Regions from separate parts of the Homo sapiens genome. Here region 1 is linked to region 2. A link means that fine-mapping ties the variant in region 2 to the expression of a gene that starts in the linked region. Tissue or cell type: sigmoid colon. Region 2 holds a variant in brackets; the other region holds the start of a gene. All regions are shown on one strand. Distances are from middle to middle.

What was found. PIP is the estimated chance that this variant, and not a neighbour inherited with it, causes the effect.
Region 1: TSHB starts here. The variant in region 2 is the best candidate, but not a certain one, in a credible set for the expression of TSHB in sigmoid colon (GTEx, PIP 0.51).

What each region holds. Positions count from the first base shown.
Region 1 is chr1:115,027,764-115,032,009 of GRCh38, forward strand. TSHB (thyroid stimulating hormone subunit beta) reads left to right here and starts at 2,063. Exons shown (of 3, transcript NM_000549.5): 1 at 2,063-2,097.
Region 2 is chr1:115,051,174-115,055,419 of GRCh38, forward strand. It overlaps TSPAN2 (tetraspanin 2), which reads right to left. Exons shown (of 8, transcript NM_005725.6): 7 at 2,206-2,289. Among named protein-coding and RNA genes, the nearest start is that of TSHB, 23 kb to the left of the region's middle. The variant T/C (reference allele first, on the strand shown) is at 2,458.

The DNA of each region.
Region 1 (4,246 bases), 23 kb before region 2:
TTCAACATGCCTGGATTCTTTTAACAGTATGAGATCATATACACTAAGGCCTCTTTAGCAAGAAAATCACTACCCAAATGCATGGTATTTATTATAGTTCTTTTAGTAACAGGCCAAGTGTCTATCAGTTGTCCATTACATATGTACACACACACATACATACATATATCTCCCAGGGATAGGTATATAAATCCGCTAGAAAATGAGTTCCTGAATCAATGCTTTATACAAAGGAGGCACTAATTCCATTAGAAACACACATCCAACATTCTTCCATTTATCATATTCCTGTGTTAGCATCTTGTCTGAAATTAGGTTGGCACACTCATTTCCAGTTTCCCTGTTTTCAAAATTATCTTACTACATAGTAGCTCACATTCCCAAGACCTTGGACCCTGGCATGGCCATTTCTAGGTATATATCTGTTAAACTAAATGTGGCCTGAGGATACCTCTGTTTTGTGAGTTCCTACATAATGAACTGCAACCTAACTTAGTATGTACACTACCTGAAAGCCTAACTTAGGAGTATACTTTTGTAACAGACAGCTGAATTTCAGCTCATCACAGCAGCTGAGCTTCAGTCAATTACAGGCAGCCAGCTGATCAGACTTTGTCCAAGTAAGGCAAGTGCTGATGTATAATGAAATCAAGCTGTTTCGATATCTCATTTCTACTTTCTGTCCATAAATGCTGTCTGCCCACATTGAGGAGCAGAGCTCTGTGAATCTCTTCTGATTCTGAGGGCTGCCTGATTTGACAATCATTCTTTTTTCAATTAAACTGACAAAAACAAGCAATGGGGAAAAGATTCCCTGTACAATAAATGGTGCTGAGATAACTGGCTAGCCATATGCAGAAGACTGAAACTGGATCCCTTCCCTACACCATATAGAAAAATCAACTCAACGTGGATTAAAGACTTACATGTAAAACCTAAAACTGTAAAAACCCTCGAGGATAACCTAGGAAATATCATTCCAGATGTAGGACCGGGCAGAGATTTCATGACGAAGACGACAAATGGAGTTTCAACAAGAACAAAAGTTGACAAATGGGACCTTTAACTAAAGGGCTTCTGCATTATGGCCCAGAAACTTTCTCCAGGCAGTTTCTCCCTGTTTGTTTCCCATCTCTCTAGGATCGTGTACTTTTGTTACCTGATGTAACAGGAAAAGAAACTATCAACATAATAAACACACAACCTACAGAATGGGAGAAAATATTTGCAAACTATGCATCTGACAAAGGTCTAATATCCAGAATCTATAAGGAGCTTAAACAATTTATAAGCAAAAACTGAAGAACCCCGTTAAAAAGTGGGCAAAAGACATAAACAGACACTTTTCAAAAGAAGATATATACATGGCCAATAAGCATATGAAAAAATGCTCACACCACAAATCATTAGAGAAGTGATATTACCTTTTAATAGAAACTGAAGAGGTCAAGCATGCCAATGTCATATGGCAAGTAAATGGCAGGGCCAAAATTTTATCTCAGGTCAGCTTGACATCCTGTCAGATGTGGCCATGTTCCTCAGAGTCATTCTTTCACATGTGTAAATTTTACTTAATATCTTAAAATCCCCCAAAAATATTTTGAACTACACATTTTGTTCTAAACAAAATTTTTAGATGAGGAATAATTTTATATATCTTTACATGAACATTTAGGTAAAACTTGAAGCCCTCAAGCCCCAAATAAATTTTTATTCCCAAGACTTATTTAGATGATGTTAGAGTGTTTTTTGAATTTGGTTTTTCCCATTCTGTATCTATCTTTTATTAATATTAATAAATAAATATTAATAAAGAATATATTTAAAAGGTAATTTTATTTTGAAACAGAAGAGAGGAAAATGCATGCTTTAATAATGTCAGTTTCCAGGTAAAGATATTGTGAGCTTGTTTGTCTAAATACATTTTATTTGGAATTCAGTATGAATTTTCAATAGATGCTTTTCAGATAAGAAAGCAGTAAATCAAATGCAATTGTATAAACAAGAAGATCAGAGGGATTATCCTGAAGGGTATAAAATGAACCAAGAGCTTTTAGTTTGGGTCACCACAGCATCTGCTCACCAATGCAAAGTAAGGTAGGTGTCTATAGTGAGAAGGCTCTGTGAAATGATATGTTCTTAAGCTATTTTTTTTCACTTTCACCATTTTATCATTTTTTAGAAAGTGGCAAATGCTGAAAGATAATTTGCTTCAACAGGCTGTAATATCTTAAATTACTGCTCCAAATTGTTTAGTAGTAGATGGAGGTGAGAGAACTACCTACATAAGGATAAGGAAAAAATTCATTGACTTAAAGAAAGAGAAACAACTGATTAGTTCCCTAATGAAGGATATTTGATATTCATGGCTTTCTTCTGTTTTCATTTTGATTTAAATATTGTTGTCCATTTAATGATGTGTGTATTAAATCCTCTCAATTACTGTACTAATGGCCATCTTTTATGAAAATGTACTTCCGGGAATGTTAGAGCAAATTCATTTTTGAGTACCTGCTGGGGTAATGTACTCTGTATTATAAGTTCTTTTTAGTTATTTAATAGCTAAACCTCCTTTGATAGTGTTCAACACACACACAGCTGCTGTATAGTACATTTTGCTTTCTAGAAAAATATACTGCTTTAGTGAAGTTCCAGGATTATTCATAGGATGGGCAATTAGTTCTTTTCATAGTAAGGGATTTGGAGAGTAAAAATTAATGAAGGAAATTAGCAGAGCAGAGAGGAAAGTGTTTATTAAGAATGAAGCATTGGGAGCAAAAATAAGAGAAAAAAAGAGAGGAAAGAGGCAAAGGAAAGAACATATCTTGGAATAAGAAAATACGTTCAAAGTAGGGACATATATGTCCATGCATCTGAAGAAGGCATCTCATTATTTAGGCCCTGCCTGAAACCATGCCTTCTATGTTTAGGTACCCAACAAATTATTCATGGTGATTTCAGAATAAGCAATTAAGTGGCAAAGATGAGAACCCAGATGACAATGAGGAAGAAATTGTGGCATATCACAGAGGAAGGGATTAACTAACGCGGATTTGTACAGTGTTATACAGCTATGTGATCTTTCTTATATAGAGAGCCAAGTGTTTCACATGTATTGTTTTATTCTTTTTATGATTTTAGGAAGGGACATATGGAAAAATGAAGGCACAAAGATATTAAATTGCTCAGTTGCACACAATTACAATTAAATCCTTAAGTAGAATTTAGATCACTAACTCTTAATCAATCAATCAGATCTGACACTAATTTATCATATAGAATTACAGACTATTTGTGCTGCGAAGATTTTCATGATCATCTTCTGGCTCTAAGCCCTGCTTTTATAGGTGAGAAAGTTGAGGCCCAGAAAGATTCTGTGGGTGAAGTTTTACTATTCGCAATAAAGAAGTAAAGGAAAAGAAAAGTTCTTGCTTTCTTTATGCCCACAAAGTTGTACAGATACTGTGGCTGGTAATTCAGCACTTCCATTTTCTACTTTTGTTAGTTTAGAGTTCTACATTTATAGGAGAAACTTCAAAAAAATATAGAGTATCCATAGTTAGTATGACAATAGGAAAACCAAAACAAATTTTCATCCTACATTTTAAAAAGGGTCAGGTGTACTTGTCACTTTCTATTTTGCAGATGGGGAAATAACACTCAAACAGATTATATATTTTAGTCAAGTTCTCATAGATTTATGGAAGAATTCTGTTTCTTAATTTTTAGACCAATATTTTCATCACCAGGTCACCACATTGATTTTATACAGAATTATAGAGCTAAAAGTTAAAATATGTGAAGTTAGTTGTTTCCTATAGAAAAAACTCAGTAGCTGGCTGTCTAAACAAGCAAGAACTATAATGGCCATGATGGGTAAGCATTTTACATAATTTACCAGTTAGTAATTTTAAGATCCTACAGAGGATCATCAAGTTCTGTATCTCTAAAATACTGGAAGCAACTCTGTACCATAGAGGGAGCTCACATTTGAGAAGCGCTTGAGAAAGCCAGATTCCATGAGTAAGGAATTTGTATGTTTTTGCTCCTTAACTCAAATACCAAACAAACCTTCCGTGGAATGTTTGAATATGCAACATTTCATTTAAAAGAATTTGTGAGAAAAACCCCTGTTATTTTAACCTTTAAAAGTTAAGTCTTCCTAAAATGGGTTAGTTTACTTTCTTGTGTAATAAGAAGTATAGTAAACATAAATCTTTGATAATTGTAGGTCTTAAAGTCTTAA
Region 2 (4,246 bases):
GTGGTGTGTCCCTGCAGTCCCAGGTGCTTGGCAAGCTGAGGCGGGAGGATTATTGAGCCCAGGAGGTCGAGGCTGCAGTGAGCTGTGATTGCACCACTTCACTCCCTGGTGACAGAGACCCTGTCTCACAAAAAAAGAAAAAAAAAGTGGAGCATCACTTCATTCTCAGTCCATTTTTAAGGGCAAACGATGCTTCACTGTTTAATTCAATAGTTTTAGCAAAACATAAACTAAAGGGTTTATACTATGGTATTATTGACTTTTACCTTTTGGATAGTTCTCTGAGAAGTTAAATACTTGAGTGAAATCAATATCCACTTCCATGGTTTGAATAGAAGAATGCCAAAGAGTCTTCTTGTCCGCTATTATTTCCCCTACAATTTTGTAGAGCCCATGGAACCCTATCTGTGGGCACCATTCCATAAACTACTGTCAATGCTTATTTTAAAAAATGGGTACTATAACTTTCTGGTTCTCTCCTCAATTCCATCCTAAGTCAGACTAGGATCTGTAAGTGCTAAATTCAATAAGATATGAATGATCAGTTGTTTTGAAAAGGGAGGGGCAGAAGCAGGTAAGGGCATGGCCAGGAACAGGATTTCAAGCTTCTGGATGACAGGACTCAGTACCAGTGTGTAGCACGGGCGACACCCAATGCACTTTTAGTTAGCTGATTACATTGTGCAACTCTCACTTTACAGAGAAAAGAACTAACGAAGAAACCTGGGGGTGCCGACTCAAGATAGGCTCACTATGGGCATTTCCCCTTTATCATTGCCATAAGGTTGGATGTAATCCCTACCCATCCTGGTTTCAGTGAGACTCCTTCAGTCTCAGCCTACTGCCGACACGAGTCAGGGGTGAATGCTTCTAGGCTGCTCATTTGCTGAGATTGTGAAACTCTCCATTATGCAGCACACGCTCAGACCTGCCTCAGGACTGTCCTTTGGGGAGCTGCAGAACTGCAGCCAGGCTATCCCCAGAGCAGGTGGGGAGGACCTGAGAAATGTCCCTTGATTTGGAGGGCCTCAGCAGAGTATTTCCAGCCACTTCTCCACCCCTCTGTGCTCTAAATACAGAAAAGGGGAAGGCGCTTGTGTGTCCCCTGATAACTGCAAATTCACTGATTTCCTCACAATTCCCACAGCCCTTGCCTTAGTTTAGGCCATGAATTAATCTACATAGAGGGCTAGAGACTAAGTGCCATCTTAGCATTAGCTATTATCATCCAACCCCTGGACAATGGAAATCATCCTTTAACCCGCCTTCCAAATCCAATCTTGCCTCCCTCCAACCTTTCCTCTATCCTCTACCACAGGTTCTTCCAACTCTTGGTGACTCCCCTTTCCTTAAGGGTGAAGCCCACCCTTTCAAAGGGGCATACAAAGATCTCAATGATGTAGATCGAATACTCTCTCCATTACCACCTCTCGCAACTCCTGCCATACCTGTCCGCTGCTATCCATTCTTCCCACACACTCTTCTTTTGTACTTTAGAAGTACAGAGCCACCTGGTGGTGGTCTGGATGCACTACGCTTAATACCATCTATGCCATTGCCTTTGCCTGGTAGATTATGCAGAGAGCTGGCATTTGTTGAGTGTTATATGTCCCAGACACTTTATTTATATTAATTTGTAATACTACTGTATATGTAGTATCCCATTTAATTTTCACGGCAATCCTATAAGGTTTATATATTAACAGACGAGGAAATTGAGGTATAGAAAAATTAAGAAATTTTCCTGCGATCTCAGAGCTTGCAAATGGTGGAGCCTAGAGTTAAATCCAAACCATGTGATGCCAGAGCTCGCCCTATTAATCTCTATGCTCTGCTGCCTCTTCAAATCGTAGGTGAGAGAGATTAACCTGATATGTTGCATTGAATTTGTAACAGTAGAAAGAGACCCAGAACTGAAAATCATTTATCTAGGTTATGGATAGTAGCCTTAAAACGGGAAGTTAATAACAATGACACACTCAAGGTCATAATGAGTTAAAGTTGAAATTTCTATTATATTTTAGAGGACAAACTATTAATATATTTATGAGCTTTGTTCTTAGAAGATGTAATACATTGTGAACAAAGGTCTTTTTTCTTTATGAGAATTCTCTCTTAAGATACTATCACACTTGAAAAGAAATAAGATGCAAAGTTTCAAGGCTTTTTAGAGGGCAAAAAGGGTAAGTTCTAGAACTTTCTCACCGTCAGACCTGCAATTCCAATACCGACAATTCCAATGAGCTGGAGCTTAACACTGATTATGGTCTCAATTTCATCGATGCAATTCTGTTTTGAGGAAAAAAAGTCGGGAATAAAAACTGATTGTATGTGTCAGTCATTATCCTGATCCTATCCTTTCCATCTCTACAGTTCATTCTGTGAGAGTTAATCCATGCCAGCTTCTACTCATGTTTCAACAATTCATCTTTGATAACATCATCCTAATAAGCTTAA[T/C]GCAAAAATGCAGTTTGGGGAAAAAAATAGAAGCCTCTCCTTTGGGTGAGATTTTCATGTTTAGGCCAGTGGCTTCTTCGGAGCCCTGAAATATAACTGGAGGAAGCTATTTGTCTGGTTCCAAGGAATCTAAAAATTTGGAGCCACTTCTTACTTGTAGCAAATAAGTAAAATACCCTTAAAACAATAACTCTTTGTTTTCATATTGTCATTTACAGTTTAAAATACTTTCTATGTCTTTGACCCAATTTACTATGCAAAGTAGGCATGACCTATTAAGAAACTAAAAAGTCTTAACAGGTTCAAGTTAAACAAAGGAAAGCCAAGAATTAGAAAAGCCAAGTCTTGGAGCTAGAGGACCATTCTCTCCTGTGGTGGCTGGGCTGGGCTGTGCTGGGTGAGTTCCTATCCTTTCATCTGTGCCCATAAGACACCTGTGCAGCATAGATTCAAAGGGCCTTCATGGATGTGGGGAAACTTAGACAGAAAGCCAAATAGATCACCTGTAACTATTATTAGTTTCTCCAACTTCAAACACTCCTATTTGGAGTGCTCTTAAGTAGAGGGATGCTCTCAATCCAACTGTACCCTCAGGTTGTTCAGATCTGTTCACTTGTCACTGGTTGGTTCCTTTGATACCATCTGAGCTATATAAAACCCTTACTTCTCTCTTCGTATTTCCTATCACACTTCATTCATTCAACAAACATTTCTTGAGCATCTACCTTGCATTAGTCACTGGAAGAGGGGTGGTAGATGCAGAGACAATAGGATATGGTTTCTCCTGCTTTCTGGGAATTCACAGTTTAGAGGACACAGATCCACAAGAGATACCTATAATGCATTCTGACAAAAGTTTGAAAACTACTCTTCTAAGGAGTGGCTCCCTTACTTAGTGGAAAAAATGAGAGTCAACCTATAGCAATTCTTTCACTCTTCCTCTCCTTCTCCTATACACTTAGATGCTCCCTTCCTTCAGTGCCAGGCATTGCTGTAGGTAGCAAGCACACTCCTGACTCCTTTTTCTCTGATCAGAGCCAAAGAGGTGCCCTTCTCTGTTGAAAGTTAACCTCATGGCTGGGCGCGGTGGCTCAAGCCTGTAATCCCAGCACTTGGGAGGCCGAGATGCGTGGATCACCTAAGGTCAGGAGATCGAGACCAGCCTGGCCAACATGGTGAAACCCCGTCTCTACTGAAAATAAAAAAATTAGCCGGGCATGGTGGCACCTACCTGTAATCCCAGCTACTAGCGGGGCTGAGGCAGGAGGATCACTTGAACCTGGGAGGTGGAGGTTGCAGTGAGCCGAGATCATGCCACTACACTCCAGCCTGGGCAACAGAGTGAGACTCTGTCTCAAAATAAATAAATAAATAAATAATAATAAAAGACAGTTAACTTCATATCCTGCTTTGGGTCTTTCAGCTCCTCAGGAAGCCTGCACTGCCAGTTACTTTTTTTCCTTCCTATACATTCAGCCTCTCCTTATCCATTGACATTTCTACTTATCCTATCACCATGCTCAGTTCTTCAATCAAAACAAACAAAACAACACTCGAGACTGTCCTCCTCTAGTTCTGCCATTAGGCCCTCCTTCCCTTCATTGCCAGCTTCTTTTTGTAAAAAACAAATGTACAAAAGGTATATTGGCTTTAGTCACAAAAGGAATACATGCTTCTTGTAGAAATCTGGAAAAGAGATTTTTTTTTTTTTAAAAAGAAATGTCTGTATTCTCACCATAAAAGGTAATAAATTTGTTGGTGATACTTACACACACAAACACACCTACAC